Homo sapiens: one gene and its partners. The protein of the gene in region 4 purifies or fractionates together with the protein of the main gene of each other region. This does not show direct contact. Each region holds a gene or a part of one and is shown on either strand. Other genes may lie near its edges. The genes, in order: ATG2B, SENP1, CCDC88A, BRINP3 and EDEM2.

Region 1 (3,520 bases), on a different chromosome or scaffold from region 4:
GCTTGAGTAAGTTATTTAACCTCACAGTAAACAGAAAGTTAGTACCCAATTTAGAGTAAAATAATGTATGTAAAAGCACCCACACAGTACAGTATATAGAGATGGAAGGTATTTAATAAATGATCATTATTATTTTCAAAAGTAAACTAAAACCCCTAACCTTGCTCCATGTTCCCCCTAGCCATCAACCCCATTTTCTCTGTCAAGGTAGTTATCTGCTCAAACTGCAAACTACAAGCGACCTTCTAACCCTCAGCTCCTCTGAAACTGCTTGTAACCACCATTAAAATGACAAATGCAATAAACAATATTTAGTCCTCATCTTTATTGAATTCTCATCTCTACCTAGTTCCTAGGACCACTCACCTTTTTTGAAATTCTAACTTCCCTTGACTTCTGTAACACTTCACTCTCTCAATCTTTTTTCTGATCCTTTACAATTTAAAATGTTGGAGTTCATCTAAGTTTCATCTTCGGCCTTTTTTGTTTCTCAAGCTGATCTACTTACTACCCACGCACTTTGTGCAGTTCCATCTCCTGCCACTGTTATTCACTATTGATACTCTGATAACTCCCATATCTTTACAACTGCAATCTTCCTATACGTATATTCCCAGTGCCTCCTGAGCTTCTCTACCTGGATCTAAAGCCCCCACATTCTAAAGCCCCCTCAAAAATCAATATAGTAAAACTTATTCTCTGTCCAATCTCAATCTCCTCCTCCCACTCCCAACTCCAGACAGTGGAGAAAACCTGCTCCTTCTCTAGAATTTCCTATTTCACCATCAACTAGGTACCACAAGTTACGGTCATCAAGGTTCTTCCCTCTACTTGTGTTTTTCAGATTTTTTCATAGTTTTTTTTTTTTAAGAATGTTTGACACATTCCATTAAAAAAATGGCCCATCATAAAAGACTTCAAAAGGTAAGTAGAACTGCTTGCTTCATGTATTAAGTATTTCCACAACTAAAAGTTTGAAACTTTTGTACCATATTGTTATCTCTGGAAGAGATGGGATTAAGCTCTATTACTTCATACCTCATATATTTCTTTACTGTTTGAATTTTTTGTAATGAGCATATATTAATTGTATAGTAAAAATGAACTATTAAAAACCTAACAGTGTTTAAAACATATGGAGGCAATGACTTAGCTTCTGCAAACTGTCAACCTTAGACAACTATGAGAGAAACGGGACTTGATGGAACTCTCTTCTCAGTAAACACCAAGTTTTCGTCCCAATTTTGTGGCAGAGAAGTTGAAATAAAGTTAAACCTCTAAATACAAAAAGGTTTATTACAGCAGTGAAGAGTAATATTAAAGGGGCCTGGTACGGTGGCTCATGCCTGTAATTCCAGAAACTGGGGGGGGCTGAGGTGGGAGGATCACTTGAGCCCAGGAGGTCAAGATCAGCCTGGGCAACATAGTGAAATCCGGTCTCTACAAAAATTAAAAGAAATTAACTGGGTGTGGTGGTGTACATCAGTAGTCCCCACCTACTCAGGAGGCTGGATTGGAGGATCGCTTGAACCCATGAGTTTGAGGCTGCAGTGAGCTGATCACACCACTGTACTCCAGCCTAGGTAACAGAGACTGTCTCTAAAGAAAGAAAAGGAAAAAAAGAAAAAAACTGATAAATGTTAACAGTTTTGGAGAGTCAACAGTTCCAGAATTTACATTGCACCACTAAGCTACAAAATAATTTCCCTAAGTATAAGATGTTTAAATAGGTTATATTTATGCCCAGTCTTATAACCACTTGAGCAAAATCCCATATATCTTGTAGCATAAGGTACCTTGAAATTCAGTCATTCTGGGAAAATCCAAGGCTACTATAGTATATGAGTAGTAAAAATTCTCAACCTACTTGGCTCAAGCAACATTTTCCACACCAGTCCTATGAAGTGTTTCCTCACCAGTCCTATCAAGTATTTTTTTTTTTTTAGTCACCACTATGCTAACGAGAAAATAACTCTTAAACTAAAAGTGGAGACACCTGAACTACTCAGCAAATAAATGCCCCACCATAGAGTCCTTTAGAGCTTTTTATTCTTCTGTTTAAGGGTATTTTGCTTTCAATTATCATCAATGAGTTTCACGCATATAAACAGAAAAAGTGAAGGTAACACTCTAGTCTCCAGGTGACCTTTGACAAATAATCAGTAATCAATGTTTCTTGAACTGAAGATAATTTTATTAAACACCAAGAGAATATAAGCAGCAATCGAAACATTCTTAAACTGAAGTTAAAAGGCCTCAGTGGCCAGGCGTGGTGGCTCACGTCTGTAATCCCAGCACTTTGGGAGGCCGACATGGGCAGACTGCTTGAGTCCAGGAGTTCAAGACCAGCCTGGGCAACATGGCGAAATCCCGTCTCTACAAAAAATACAAAAAGTAGCCAGGTGTGGTGGCATGCACCTGTAGTCCCAGCTACTGCAGGGAGGGGAGGAGAGGTAGGAGGATCGCTTGAGCCTAGCAGGTTGAGGCTGCAGTAAGCCTAGATCACGCCACTGCACTCCAGTCTGGGTGACAGAGTGAGACCCTGTCTCAAAAAAAAAATAAAATAAAAGGCCTCAGTGTAATAAATTGTTAATGTGTATCTTCTTGAGCTCCTGTAAGAAAAGGGTCTTTGTTTAGTTCACTGCTATATCCCCCAGCCCCTCACAGTGGCACATGCTAAGAGCTCAATAAATGTACTGAATCGATTAATGAAAGAAATTCCATTTAAAAATCAAAAATAAAGGCACAGTCATAGAGTTAAAAAGGAATGAGTCATTAAATCCAACTTCCCACCCCAAATAGAATTTCCTCCTTTCAACATTTTGCCATTTCAACCACTTCTAGGGACAAGGAGTTTATGAAATTTTTAGACAGTCTATTCCAATGATGGAACAATCCCAAACCCCTTGCCTCTATTTCTCCCTCCACTTCATGCCACGTTTAAGGTAGTAATCTCCAAAACTGGATGCATATATCCTAAAGTATTATCAGATGATTCATAAGGATGTGAGAGGAAAATGAGACATTCTATATTAAATTTTCCAAATTTAGATTGAAAAGTTGTACTTATATTTAATATACAAATGGGCACTGGCACCTTCCTTCAAGCCACATATCAAACTGGTACAAAGAGAAAACTAGTAGTTCCACAACAGAGAAGGATTAAGAGTGGTGCCCTCAGTTGGATGTTCCTTCCACTTCTGCACACTGAAACATTTCCACATACATTCTATAGAATAAAACCAGACCTTTAAACAGTAGAATCTTTGTAAAGAGAAAGTGAATGGCAATTACCTTCTGGTTTCCTGGTTTCTCCTATGGCCAAGTGTTTAAGGGTTGGATTTAAAGATAAGCATTTTCCTTTTACACAGAGAAGAATTCTCCACTGACTATTTATGTATTTATGACAATGACTATCAGTAGTACATGCTACCTAGCAGATATTTTCCAAAAAACAAAACATACTTAATCTGTCTTTTCAAAATAAAGATAGCACTTTAATAATGAGTAAGAAAGCAAC
Region 2 (3,520 bases), on a different chromosome or scaffold from region 4:
ATTTTCAATATTTTAAAAATAAAGCCCAGATTGGTATATAAAATAAGCGAAAGCTGAAATATACAAGAAAATTTAAATAACACGTGTTCTATGGCTTTTTGTGTGTGTGTGTATGTGAGATGGAGTCTTGCTCTGTCACCCAGGCTGAAGTACGGTGGCATGATCTCGGCTCACTGCAACCTCTGCCTCCCGGGTTCAAGCAATTCTCCTGCCTCAGCCTCCTGTGTAGCTGGGATTACAGGTGCATGCCACCACACCCAGCTAATTTTTGTATTTTTGGTAGAGATGGGGTTTTACCATGTTGGCCAGGCTGGTCTCGAACTCCTAACCTCAAGTGATCCACCCGCTTCAGTCTCCCAAAGTGATGGGATTACAGGCGTGAGCCACCGTGCCTGACCACTATTGCTTTTATGTTTGAAACTCATCCGAGGGATTCTTTCTAAACATGATACTTAGTAGTGTAGAAATTAAGTGTATGTAACTTACCTCTGTAATTTCAGGAAATTCATCTTCACTATCAGTTAATTTATGACCTTTTTTTTGTGTTTCTTGGACAACAGTAACAGGAATCTCCTTTTCAAGAGGTACACGAAGATGTAGTTCTACTGAATCATGTACTGAATGTTCCCGCTCCTGCAATCTCTGAAAGATAAAACTTCAGAGTAAGTGGGATAAAGAAATCTGTGGATGTTCCTTGATTTATGATAGGGTTATGTCCCAATAAACCTGTCATAAGTCAAAGAGCGTGCTTAAATGCCCATTGCTTTCGCTTTTTTGTAAAGTCAAAAAATCATTAGTCGAACCATCACAAGTAGGGGACTATCTATATTTGTCTTATGTACAATGAGTAGCACTGACTGGACAGACCAAGAACATTTACGACATATCATAACATGCTATGCTACCATACGATCTTGGAATTACAACAGCAATTACCCAAATCTGGGTAACTTTCCAAAATAGTTTCTACTTTGATGTACTATTTATTTGTAATATTATTCCAATTTTCTTTTTTACCTGGTTTTGAAGCTGTAAGGCCAATGCCTTCTGTTCTTCAATCTGGCGCAATCTTTCTCGTGCTCGAGAATCATAAACACTAGTTCTAGAAAATGAAAAGGAACGTGACCAAATGTAGACCACTCTCATTATGAAACATATTGTTGATGTACACTGAATATTAAATACAGGACCCTCACAAAGAAAGTCTAAAATCCTTACACTAACTTATCATCCTTATTTTAAGACATAGAGTGAAACCACATAATGTTACTGAAATTACTCTACCATTTTTACTTATTATTTTTTATAGAGATAGGGTCTCACTACAGTGCCCGGGCTAGTCTCAAACTCCTGGGCTCAAGCGACCCCCCTACCTTGGCCTCTCAAAGTGCTAGGATTACAGATGTGAGCCATTGCACCCGACCTATTTTTACTGAAATTACTAAAAATATTAGTGTGCTGCTAAATGTGAACAGATGACTTGTTAACATTTGTAAACACACAGTTCTTTTCTTAACATGCTTTTAAGATTATAGTGAAAGCGAAACTTCAGTCTGGAAATCCAAAAATGGGATTGAACCCTAAAGGAGAAACGAATACAAGATATCACTGAAGTTTAATTCAAATACTTCATTTTTGATAGATTTTTAAAAAATTACCGAGACCGAGGGGTTTGGATAACTTAAGTTCCTTAAGTGAGACTAAATGCTTTCAGTGATTTTGCAAAGTCCAGAAATATGAATTATTCAATAAATTAGTTTTACAAATGCCAAAATAGGATCATTTATTTTCCCTATTATATAATAGCTAACTCTATTTTTCCAATTTAATTTAGCTTCAACAATTGTTATAGATTTAATAAACATAAGTATAGAAATGTTCCAACTCCAACAATATTTTGAAAACCCAACAACTTAAAAGTATAAACAGGCACTTCTTTTTTTTTTTTTTTGAGATGGAGTCTTACTCTGTTGCCCAGGCTGGAGTGCAGTGGCGTGATCTCGGCTCACTGCAACCTCCACCTCCCAGGTTCAAGCAATCCTCCCGCCTCAGCCTTCCAAGTAGCTAGGATTACAGGCGCGTGCCACCATGCCCAGCCAATTTTTGTATTTTTAGTAGAGATGAGGTTTCACCATGAAGGCCAGGCTGGTCTTGAACTCCTGACCTCAGATGATCCACCTGCCTCAGCCTCCCAAAATGCTGGAATTACAGGCGTGAGCCACCGCGCCCAGCCTAAACAGGTACTTCTTATTGGCAAAAAATAAGCAGGATGATTAGCTAATTGTTTGATTTCTTCTAACTAAAAATGAACTGATTGAGAAGGAAAAATGATACCAAAAATAACTTACAATTCTTTGATCCACAGCTCTGCCTGGAAGAAAGTAGAACTATGGGTAGGAAAAGAAAAATTTGACAAATGAGCAGGAGGCTTATGAGAAAATTAAAATATTTTCATCAATAAAAACAATCATTTAAATTGTTTATATGAGTGCTTTACAAGTATGGAATAAGTAAAAGGAATCTAAATGACATAAAATAATTGTAACTAGGAATTAAGGAGACACAATCCTTATGCATACATATTAGTTAAAATCATATGGATACATATTAGTTAAAAAGGTGACCCAAAGTTCAGCAGAGATACTACATTTGGCATAGCTCCCTACTTGCATGAGACCAACATTACGTGAAAGAGGACATCACTTCTCAAAATAATACATTAAGCTAGAACATTGCTCTTCCCAAATGACTCAGATTGAAAGATTTATTAAAAATCCCCACACACAAAATAATCTACATCAAATGGCTAACAAGCCAATGAGCCAAAGCAGAGAATCAGCAACACAACTTCCTTCCAAAGATGACAGGCCAATTCTAGGTCCATGTGGCTCTGCTGACAACCCAAGTGATATGCTGAGCAGAGCCACAGACATGATTAATTGTCCTAGAGCCTCTTGTTTTTCTCAAACTTCCTTATCTCCAAACTCCTAACTAGGCAGGATCTATCACAGAAACACAAAGAAGAAGAGTGAACACTTTTCCAAAGAAAACTATTAAATATAGAGAACAAGTAAACAGAGCATCAAATTGGGAGTTAAGAGACCTGGATCAGAGGCCAGGCATGGTGGCTCATTCCTGTAATCCCAGTGCTTTAGGACGCTGAGGTGGGAGAATCGCTTGAGCCAAGAGTTCAAGACCAGCCTGGGCAACATAGTGAGATTCTGTCTCTTAAAAAAAAAAAAATGATCTGCAACTAGAATAGTGCTTGGCACAGAGTAGGCATTTAGTGTTGTTTGTTTGTTTTTTGACTCTCACTCTGTTGCCCAGGCTGGAGTACAGTGGCACAATCTCGGCTCACTGCAACCTCCACCTCTCGGGTTCAAGAGATTCTCCTGCCTCAGCCTCCTGAGTAGCTGGGATTACAGGCACCCGCCACCACACCTGGCTAATTTTTTCTTTTTTTTATTTTTATTTTAGTAGAGACGAGGTTTCACCATGTTGGCCAGGCTGGTCTCGAACT
Region 3 (3,520 bases), on a different chromosome or scaffold from region 4:
TGATTCTCCTGCCTCAGCCTCCCGAGTAGCTGGGATTACAGGGGCCCGCCAACATGCCCTGCTAATTTTTGTATTTTTATTAGAGACGGGGTTTCACCATATTGGCCAGGCTGATCTTGAACTCCTGACCTCAAGTGATCCACCCGCCTCAGCCTCCCAAAGTGCTGGGATTACAGGTGTGAGCCCCCAAGTCTGGCCTACCTCCCCACTTTTAAATGACACTCCAGGTGCCCAGAACTTTGCAATTTCTTGCCCAAGCACTTCTAACTCAATTTGAAGGCCCACACAGGCCTCTTTCCTAGGTCTGTCCTTAGAAAAGACTGTGCTACACTTGTGTACACCCTTGGGCCAAGGAGTACTTGTTTGGGGATGGGAGTACAAGAGCTTAGACCTTGTGCGTGCATGCAAGGTGTTCACAGCATGTACAGGAGACCTCTTTGTGGTGCTAGAAAGAGCCAGAGATGACGGGAGGAGGTTGGGCTTAACCACACTCTGCTGCAAAACTGTGAATTTATGAATTCTAAATTCCACAGATTTTAAATTTGAAACTTTCAAGTCATTATGAAGGTATATTTATCAAGAGAAAAGACTAGAATATAGATAATGATTTGTTGGCCTGGTTTATAAGCTTTAAATATTTAGGCCTATTGTGGTAAATGGATGCTTATCCTGGATCTTACAAATGTTAGGGGCAGATCTCCTCTCACTCAGAGTGAAGTTGATGGGTTTTATCCACCTATTTTTATTAATTATTAAAGTAGGCCAGGCACACTGGCTCACGCCTCTAATCTCTGCACTTTGGGAGGCTGAGGTGGTGGATAGCTTGAACCCAGGAGATTGGAACCAGAATGGGCAACACAGCAAAACTCTGCCTTTACAAAAAACAAAAAACAAAAAAAAGAAAAGAAAAATTAGCTGGGCATGGTAGTAGTCCTAGCTACTCAGGAGGCTGAGGTGAGAGGATCGTTTGAGCCCAGGAGGCAGAGGTTGCAGTGAACCAAGATCTCGCCACTGCATTCCAGTCTCGGCAAGAGAGAGAGGCCTTGTCTCAAAAAAAAAAAAAAATTATTAAACTAGTAAAATAGATCTAAGAAGGCATAAAAATAGAATCAGGAATAAAGAGAACATTTAAAGTAATTTTCCAGTTTCAATAACTAGCTAAATATTAAATGATTGATTCAGGATTTAAACTTTCAAGCCCATGTTTTTGTTTTTGCCCTCCCACCACTCTGACTCTCCAAAAGCAGCCAGTTTACTAATTAATAAATTAAGTATTATACAGATGTCCCAGTACCAAGTATAATCTCAAATACTATTTCTGAATATTGAAAACTTAATGCCTAGAATGGTATCAAACTGTTTCATGGATCCTAAAAGAAAGTCAGCTGGTGTCCTTTTGAAAGAACTGGTCTTCCTTTCCATTTATCCTGTGAGAACTAGTCTCCCATAATATATATTAAGAGAAAATTTTCAGTTAAAAAATTTAAAAATACTCTCAGGTATAACAACTAGTTCACCTGTTCTTCTCTAGGTTCTCATCATTTCTGTAGTTTAACTACATATGAATCATATTGAGAATGAGGCAATCACAATGGACTTTTCTTGAAGACAGTCCAATACAAAGCTGTGGACAAAAAAATCTCAACATGGCCCAGGCACGGTGGCTCATGCCTGTAATCCCAGCATGAGATTTTGGGAGGCTCAGGTGGACAGATCACTTGAGGTCAGGAGTTCGAAACCAGCCTGGCCAAAATGGTGAAATCCCGTCTCTACTAAAAACACAAAACTTCACCAGGCACGGTGGTGGGCACCTTGTAATCCCAACTACTCAGGAGGCTGAGACAGGAGAATTGGTTGAACCTGGGAGAAGGAGGTTGCAGTGAGCCGAGATCACGCCACTGTACTCCAGCCTAGACGACAGAGTAAGACTCCGTCTCAAAAAAAAAAAAAAAAAAAAAAAACTCAACATATTGGACAGGAAAGTTATTGGAAACCAAACTGAAAGCACTGTATATTCTAATACTATAAAAAACCATGGACCATGAAATCTTGCTCCTATCACCTTGCCTCAAAGGAGATATAACATCGGTGGGAAAAATATCCAATAAAGGTAATTAAAACAAATACGGGGAAAGAGAGAGAACAAACAAAAAGGAGAAACAGAAGACAAACTAAAAAATAAACTAAATTCTACAGTACTAAAACTAGAAGGTATTCTCAAAATTTTGAAAATTAATAAAATTGCAGCTATCTTCACTTATTCCTTCAACATTTACTTACAACTTACGACATGCCAACTTCTATGCTAGGTGCTAGTGATACATGCTAAGTACTAGGTTAGGTGCTAGTAATATGTGAGACAAAACATCTAGCCCCTAAACAGTAATACTGCAAAGCAATAGCTACGCAGGTGAAGGTACTTCCGAATCATAAGGAAGAAAACAACTCTGCCTGGGGACTTCACAAGGTATTAAAGGAAGAGCAGGAATTGGTTAGTCAAAGAAAAGGGGAAGGATAGTCTAGAGCAGGAGTCTCTAACCCCTGGGCCATGGATTGGGTCCATGGCTTGTTAGGAAAGCCACACAGCAGATCAGTGGTGGGCGGGCAAGCATTACTGCCTGAGCTCTGCCTCCTGTCAGATCAACAACAGCATTAGATTCTCACAGGACCACAAACCCTATTGTGAACTGTAGATGCGAGGGATCTAGGTTGCACTCTCCTCATAAGAATCTAATGGCTGATGATCTGAGGTAGAACAGTTTCATCCTGAAACCATCTCCCCTCAGCCTTGCTCCATGTAAAAATCGTCTTCCATGAAACCAGTCCTTGCTGCCAAAAAGGTTGGGGACCGCTGGTCTTGAAGAAAATAATTCTAATGATAATAATATAAATAAAACAATAAAGAGCTAACATTTATTGGACACTTTCTATATGTTAAGCATTGTACATACATTATTCTATTTGATTCTCATAACAATCCTGTGACTTTTTATCCCACTTACAAATTAAGTAACTTACTAAAGATCATACAGCTATATAGAGGTGACACTAACAGAGATCATACAAAACTAAGCTGTCGGCCAGGCGCAGTGGCTCATGCCTGTAATGCCAGCCACTTTGGGAAGCTGAGGTGGGAGGATCACTTGAACCCAGGAATTCAAGACCAGCCTGGGCAAAAAAGTGAGACCCGGTCTCTATAAAAAAAATTTTAAAAAATTAGCCAGGTGCAGTAGCACATGCCTGCAGTCCCAGCTGCTTGGGAAGCTGAGGTGGGAGGATTGCTTCAGCCTAGGAGTTTGAGGTTGCAGTGGGTTGCGATTGTGCCACTGCAGTCCAGCCTGGGTGACAGAGTGAGATCCTGTCTCAAAAACAAACAAACAAACAAAAAAACTAAGCTGTGAACTATCATGATTTACTTGAGGAGCCATAAGTAGGTAGATATAGCATAGCACAGGATAATAATAATGACAGCAACCAGCACTGGGGATATAGTGGGTCAACAAAACAGAAAATAGACTTA
Region 4 (3,374 bases):
ACAACTTGTGAACTCTAGAAATGTTGTTTTATTGACACTGGTAAAGTGCTGGAATAACTAGGTTTTCAGGATTTGAAATTAAAATAATTGTGCCGAGTGTGCTGATTATTGGTTCCTAGAATGTAGAAAGGGAAGGAGAAAGCAAGCAAGTTGCTAAGGAAATTAAAGGTTTGCTTTCTCCATGCTATGCTTTATTATCACACTGATTTTTCTGTATGTTTGCTGAAATATTCTGATGTTTGAGAATTAGTTTATCTGAGTACTTTAATTACAATTGTGTCTCTAGTATTGGTTTCCCAAGTACAGGTAATAAACATACTACTGTCGTTGTTCTGTTAACCATAAAAAACAACTGAATAGTAAGTATCCTACCTACTTGGGTTTTCCATAAAAATAATTGAAAGAGACCTTCAAATATTTCCATTAAAAATTCTTGGTGAATTTTCCCCAGGTTCTAACAAACTGTATCAAAATAGAACTCATTTCATGGAAAAAAGGAATCCCACAGCATTTCTTTTTAATAACTGTTCAGCTACAAAATTTTATTGGTATCTTTTTATGTTCCCTCTAGAGGATGTAATGCACAAAAGCATTGCCACGGAACATATAAAATTACAAATGAAATTTATTGTAAAAAGTAGAATGTCTTCTAGACTGGTGTCAGTATTTATGTCATTCATAAACCAAAACTGCTGTATAATATATTCATTGTCAGCAAGTTCATGTGTGTAAATTGCCATCCAATGTTATTGACTGATATAAGACAGATATTGAAAAGACAATTTAAATTTACTCTTCCAAACATAAACTGTTCCACAAAAGCACTGTAAAAACTCCTTCAAGATTTTGGGTTGTGCTTGACATTTATGGTTAACTACATAATTTGGTCGTGTCATAATCCATTGTGTTTGGCAATTTGGCATTAAACGCCTGCAGAGCAGATTGGATCCTCACCACCTCACTAGTAGACAGCTTGAGTCTATGACGAAGCAAGCAAGAGAAAAGATCTAGACGACGCTGACCAGGTGGGGAGAGTTTATTTACACGGTCTCTGATCTCTAGTAGTTGCAAAAGTGCTGAATCCTGGGATCCCTGAGTATAGGGGTAGTCCAGCTGCAAAATCAGGTCCCGAATTGCTTCAGGGTCAAAGTGCATGCTGTAGCCAAACACTTGAATGTTATTGATTTTCATATAGCCCAGGTTCCGGGAAGGGTCAATAAACTCCAGAGGTTCATAGTAAATGCTCTCATTACCATTGGGACCATTGGACTTGATGCGACTTCTCAGGTAGATGTGTACTGTCTCAAAAAATGTCTTCCATTTGTTCCCCAGAGTTAATGTCCAGTTATAACACTGCAGGGGTAGGTCCAACTTAGTCCGCTCCCAGTCTGGAAAGCTGTTTTCATTCACAGGCATAAACCAGCTCTCAGAGTGGCTGCCTCCGAAGGGATTGACATAAACAGCCAACACTGGCTCCAAGGTGCTGTTTTTAGTTAAGCAAATCTGTAAAGAGAGACCCAAAATCATATGGACCAGACTTGACTTGTACTTATTGCTCTTCAAGGTGAGGAGCATCCGCTTACGCCAGGAGGGATCAAACCAGCTATTGAGGCGCATGTCATTGCTGATAAAAATGGCATGGACTTCTATTCGTCTGTCCGTTTTCTGCAGCAGATATTTCATCTCGAGATCTTGCAGGTCAGTTTCAAAGCCAATATAGTGATCGGTGGACTCGGCGACTTCAGGCTTGCAGAGCCCCTGGCTGAGCATGTAGCCGGTGTTGCAGGTGCCGCAGCGGGTGCGGTTGTCTGGTGCGCATGTCAGGCAGGCAGAGGCGTCTCCCACTGTGCAGGGCAGGAACGCGGTGCAGACCACCTGGTCATTCGGACACGTGCACGAGTGCGTCTCTTCTGAAAAGCTGCCTAGGAGGCCGTTCTCATTGCAGTAGAGAAAAGACTGGATGCGAGTAAGCCAGTAGGTTGAGGTTCTAGAAATACAAAACAGAACGAATCTACATAAATACAAAGATATTCTGTGTACTGCAGTAAACCGTAGCTCAGAAATCTTTGCTATCATTTCTTCAGGTCATCTCCAGCCAGTAATTTAAATGAAATAAAAGATTCATAGAGCTCATAATTAGACTATATAATACACACACACACACACACACACACACACACAGACGTGTGTATGTATATTCCATTTATCACTGCACAAAACAAGATTAGAGCTATACTTGGTCTGAACTGCAATACATTTCTAAATATGTGATATCTTCTAAAGACATTGCATGCTATCTCATTAGTGCACATGGAAGACCATTGTAAATAAAAATGGGTCATTATTGTTTTGAAATAAGAAGAAGAAAGGTAAGTGATTTTATCATAAAATATCTGTAGGAGAATTAGAGCATATACATGGTGATTGTTCATTCATTTACTCTTAGCTTTATAAACCACTAGTGTTGCAGGAAGGATGAATAGAAAGTAAAAGAAAAATGAAAGAAAAACAGCTCTAAATTGTCAATCAGTGTATTTAGATGCTAGGGTTGTCATCAACATTGAAAGAACAAGTACCCACTCAAAGAAATATTAAAACATGTTTATTCTTACAGGCTGCTCAAGAAAATAGTTGAAAATATCTCATTAAAATCAACAAGCTCCTTCAATAAGGGGTAAGTGTGTTAGTTTAATGTGTTTGATTTGAGTCATTAACATTTTTTTTCTCATCAGGTTAATCATGATTCCTTTTTCAAATCTCACTTTTCTGATTTTCTCGCATTATTTAAACTATTTTGGTGTCTTAAAACCAGTAAAATAATGAGGGAAGAGCAATGGCCTTGTAATAACACAATTCCTTGTTTTCAGTTTGTTGCTTTCTCATACTGCATGTATGATCATGGGAAAAGTTGCACAGCCTCTATAACACACAGTTCTCTCATATGAAAAATGGGAATAGTAATATCGTCCATGTTGAGATTTTGTGAGAAATAAATTAAGGTCAAACTCTATGCATGTACTTAGAATATTGCAAAGTGTCTGTTTCACAGTAGATACACAACAATTCCATTTTTGGTATTCTTATGCTTTTTTGGTGTTCACATTTAATACATTTTGGATTTCCTGCAAAATATATATGCTGTACTCAATCCTTTAAATATCTACTTACTGTTTTTCATAGTGCATTTTTCTGCTTAAGATTTTGTATTACTGTGTATTTACTTATTTATATTGTTTTTCTCATTACATATAATACCCATTTGCCAAAATCTTGTATGTTTTCTTTCATAGCTACATAACCTGTGCCCAGTAGAATGCCAGGAGATAACAAGCCTTTAATATTTATTGAATATTGAATAAAATGCATGGATTAGC
Region 5 (3,520 bases), on a different chromosome or scaffold from region 4:
AATGTGTTTATTGCTTTCAAATACCTGAAGAACTGTTGTAGAGTTGACTTCAAGGGTGGCCTCAGCTCAGTATGTTTTTCTACTTCATCCATCTTTTCTAAGAGACAGAAGAACCCCTGTCTCCTTTCTATACCATCATCTCCCCCTGACCTTCTCCTGTCCTGTTTCCTCCTGGGCTTGATCAGTGCTTCTGTCCCTTTTGGCTTATTGCTGCAAACTCTGGTTCTTATTTTATTCCGTTAATTACTTTTTTGTGACAGAGTCTCACTCTGTCACCCAGGCTGGAGTGCCATGGTGCGATCTCCGCTCACTGCAACTCTGCCTCCTGGGTTCAAGGGATTCTCATGCCTCAACCTCCCAAGTAGCTGGAATTACAGGCATGCGCCACCAGCCCTGACTAATTTTTGTATTTTTAGTGGAGACAGGGTTTCGCCATGTTGGCCAGGCTGGTCTCAAACTCCTGACCTCAAGTCATCCGCCAGTCTTGGCTTCCTGAAGTGTTGAGATAACAGGCGTGAGTCACTGCACCCAGCCTCTAGTTCTTATTTTAGAGAAAAGGTCTCTGCCTATCTCCCCAGTTCTCTCTTACTTCCTCCTCCCCTCTCCTCACAGGCCTCTAGACAATTGCTAATCTAATTGCTCATATTCTAAGGCACAGACTAGGGTACATTCATTACTAGATGAACACATTCTGTGTGTTCAAAGGCAGAAAAGACAGTGCCCTCATGGGAGGCCTCCTCTTCTGCTTCTTTTTTCGGCTTCTTCTTTTTTTTTTTTTTTTTTTTTTGAGAGGGAGTTTTGCTGTGTTACCCAGGCTAGAGTGCAATGGCATGATCTTGGCTCACTGCAACCTCTGCCTCCCAGGTTCAAGCAATTCTCCTGTCTCAGCCTCCTGAGTAGCTGGGACTACAGGCACATGCCACCGTGCCCGGCTAATTTTTGTATTTTTAGTAGAGACAGGGTTTCGCCATATTGGTCAGGCTGGTCTCGAACTCCTGACCTCAGTTGATCCACCGCCTTGGCCTCCCAAAGTGCTGGGATTACAGGCGTGAGCCACCACACCCAGCCCTCTTCTGCTTCTAGCAGCTGGTGGGCCAGTGCCCTCATGACCAGCCATCACGCTTCTCTCCTCACATGTGGGCCTCCTAAGCATGTTAGTTATTGCTTTACTTTCCTGTGCATCTGACCAACTCTGTCGAGCAGTGGTCCCCAACCGTTTTGGCACCAGGGACCAGTTTCATGGAAGACAATTTTTCCATGAACTGGGCTTGTAGGAGATGGTTTTGGGATAATTCATGTGCATTACATTTATTGTGCACTTTATTTATATTATTATTACATTGTAATATATAATGAAATAATTATACAATCCACCATAATGTAGAGTCAGTGGGAGCCCTGAGTTTGTTTTCCTGCAACTAGACAGCCCTATCTGGGGTTGATGGATGACAGTGACAGATCATCAGGCATCAGCTTCTCCTAAGGAGCACACAACCTAGATCCCTCACATATGCAGTTCACAATAGGGTTTGTGCTCCTATGAACGTCTAATGCCACCACGGATAAGACAAGAGGCGGAGCTCAGGCAGCAATGTGAGCGATGAGGAGCAGCTATAAATATAGATGAAGCTTTGCTTGCTCACACGCAGCTCACCTCCTGCTGTGTGGCCTGGTTTCTAACAGGCCATGGACTTGTACCGGTCCACGGCCTGGGGGTTGGGGAATCCCTGCTCTAGAGGAAGGAGACAGCCCAAAGTTCAGATTTGGACTTAGAGGAAGGTAAAAGCCTGCAGAGGCCTTTAGGCTAGGCTCTGTGCTCCAACACTGCTGATCAGAGAGACATATACGAAAGTACAGGGCTCTGGCCAATTTAGTGAAAGAGTAGTCCTTATCTCCTATTTGCCATTGTTTTGGGGTAGGAGGGATGACTGGATTAACGCACTCCTGGATTCCTGACAGCGGTGCCTTATGTTTTTTTTTTTTGGAGACAGGGTCTCACTCCATTGCCCAGGCTGGATTGCAGTGGCGCCATCATGGCTCACTGCAGCTACGACCACCTGGGCTCAAGTGATCCTCCCAGGTAGCTGGGATGGGACTACAGGCATGCAACACCACTCTTGGCTAATTTATTTATATTTCTTATAGAGACAAGGTCTTGCTATGTTGCCCAGGCTGATCTTGAACCCCTGGGCTTAAATGATCCTCCTGCCTCAGGCTTCCAGAGTGCTGGGATTACAGGCATAAGCCACTGCATCTGGCCAGTAGTGTCTTACTTTCCATGAATGCCTTCCTGCCAGCCTGTCCCAAATGGAACAGGTTGCCTCTGTTAAGTAGCAAGCTCCTTGTCACTCGTGGTAACTAAGCAAAAACTAGATAACCACTTGACAGGGCCATATTAGGAAAATTCCAATTAGAACACCTCTCAGGTTCCCTCTAACCCTAAGATTGTGCAAGCCTATGTCTTACATTTAGTTCCAAACCCTAATCTTTACCTGTTGGTAACACCAGATACGATACCTTCTCAGAGCTTCTTATTTTTAAAATTTACTTATTTATTTTTTTGAGATGGAGTTTTGCTCTTTTTTGCCCAGGCTGGAGTGCAATGGCGTGATCTCAGCTCACTGCAACTTCTACCTCCCGGGTTCAAGCGATTCTACTGTCTCAGCCTCCCCAGTAGCTGAGATTACAGGTGCACGCCACCATGCCCAGCTAATTTTGTATTTTTAGTAGAGATGGGGTTTCACCATGTTGGCCAGGCTGGTCTCAAACTCCTGACTTCAGGTGATCCACCTGCCTTGGCCTCCCAAAGTGCTGGGATTACAGGCGTGAGCCACCATGCCCAACCAAGTTTCCTGTTTTAAAAACATGCCATGAGAACAAATGCATGAGAAACATCAATAACAGTGGCCTCTAAGGAGTCAAAAGTTGATGAATTTGCTCTTTATTCCCTCTCCTGGTCCCCTCTACACCTCCTACGATAATCACTTGAGTTAGAAGAGGAAGGAAATGGGGTAGAGGAAGGCAGGATAACCAGAAGGCCTGTCCCATGGCTAAAAGGCAATTCAGGTGGGAAAGTGGGAAGTGTCTAAGACAATGGGCTCATAGCCTGTTTTGGGGTGGGGGATGACTATGTGTGCTGACTAAGCTTCCTTCCTTTGTCCCTCTTTTTCTTTCCCTCCTCACAATTTTCAGCTTCCCTGAAGTGAATCAAATGACATTAGGGCTAGAAAGGAACCTATGAGAGTGTCTCAAATATAGTCCTTTGCTTGATTCTGAGCTGCAAATGGGGAGGTGGAAGAGACTAGGTAATTCCTAAGGTCCGCCCCAAAGTTCTAACATTCCATACACGTAAGCATAATTTATCTGACCCATGGACTTAGGAAGCTTGCCTACACTTCTGAAATCCTGATGGCAGGAGCTCAAAAGGAGTCAACCTTGGCCTTTTCCTTCTCACTCATTTCCTGATTTGAAAGAGCATATGGGGCCAGTCGCAGTGGCTCACATCTGTAATCCCAGCACT

The links.
Region 1: the proteins of BRINP3 (region 4) and ATG2B purify together in Homo sapiens (affinity purification with mass spectrometry; 2 studies listed by BioGRID and IntAct, with this or other methods). This does not show direct contact.
Region 2: the proteins of BRINP3 (region 4) and SENP1 purify together in Homo sapiens (affinity purification with mass spectrometry; one large-scale study listed by BioGRID and IntAct). This does not show direct contact.
Region 3: the proteins of BRINP3 (region 4) and CCDC88A purify together in Homo sapiens (affinity purification with mass spectrometry; one large-scale study listed by BioGRID and IntAct). This does not show direct contact.
Region 5: the proteins of BRINP3 (region 4) and EDEM2 purify together in Homo sapiens (affinity purification with mass spectrometry; 2 studies listed by BioGRID and IntAct, with this or other methods). This does not show direct contact.

The regions. Positions count from the first base shown.
Region 1 is NC_000014.9:96,356,829-96,360,348, forward strand, and holds part of ATG2B (autophagy-related protein 2 homolog B), read right to left. Parts: intron 1-3,520. UniProt on the Homo sapiens protein: Lipid transfer protein required for both autophagosome formation and regulation of lipid droplet morphology and dispersion.
Region 2 is NC_000012.12:48,064,579-48,068,098, forward strand, and holds part of SENP1 (sentrin-specific protease 1), read right to left. Parts: intron 2,388-3,520; coding exon 2,349-2,387; intron 1,103-2,348; coding exon 1,018-1,102; intron 643-1,017; coding exon 487-642; intron 1-486. UniProt on the Homo sapiens protein: Protease that catalyzes two essential functions in the SUMO pathway.
Region 3 is NC_000002.12:55,409,843-55,413,362, forward strand, and holds part of CCDC88A (girdin), read right to left. Parts: intron 1-3,520. UniProt on the Homo sapiens protein: Bifunctional modulator of guanine nucleotide-binding proteins (G proteins). Acts as a non-receptor guanine nucleotide exchange factor which binds to and activates guanine nucleotide-binding protein G(i) alpha subunits.
Region 4 is NC_000001.11:190,097,148-190,100,521, forward strand, and holds the end of BRINP3 (BMP/retinoic acid-inducible neural-specific protein 3 isoform 1 precursor), read right to left. Parts: intron 1,988-3,374; coding exon 871-1,987; 3' UTR 511-870; downstream 1-510. UniProt on the Homo sapiens protein: Inhibits neuronal cell proliferation by negative regulation of the cell cycle transition. Promotes pituitary gonadotrope cell proliferation, migration and invasion, when overexpressed. May play a role in cell pituitary tumor development.
Region 5 is NC_000020.11:35,119,829-35,123,348, forward strand, and holds part of EDEM2 (ER degradation-enhancing alpha-mannosidase-like protein 2 isoform 1 precursor), read right to left. Parts: intron 1-3,520. UniProt on the Homo sapiens protein: Involved in the endoplasmic reticulum-associated degradation (ERAD) pathway that targets misfolded glycoproteins for degradation in an N-glycan-dependent manner.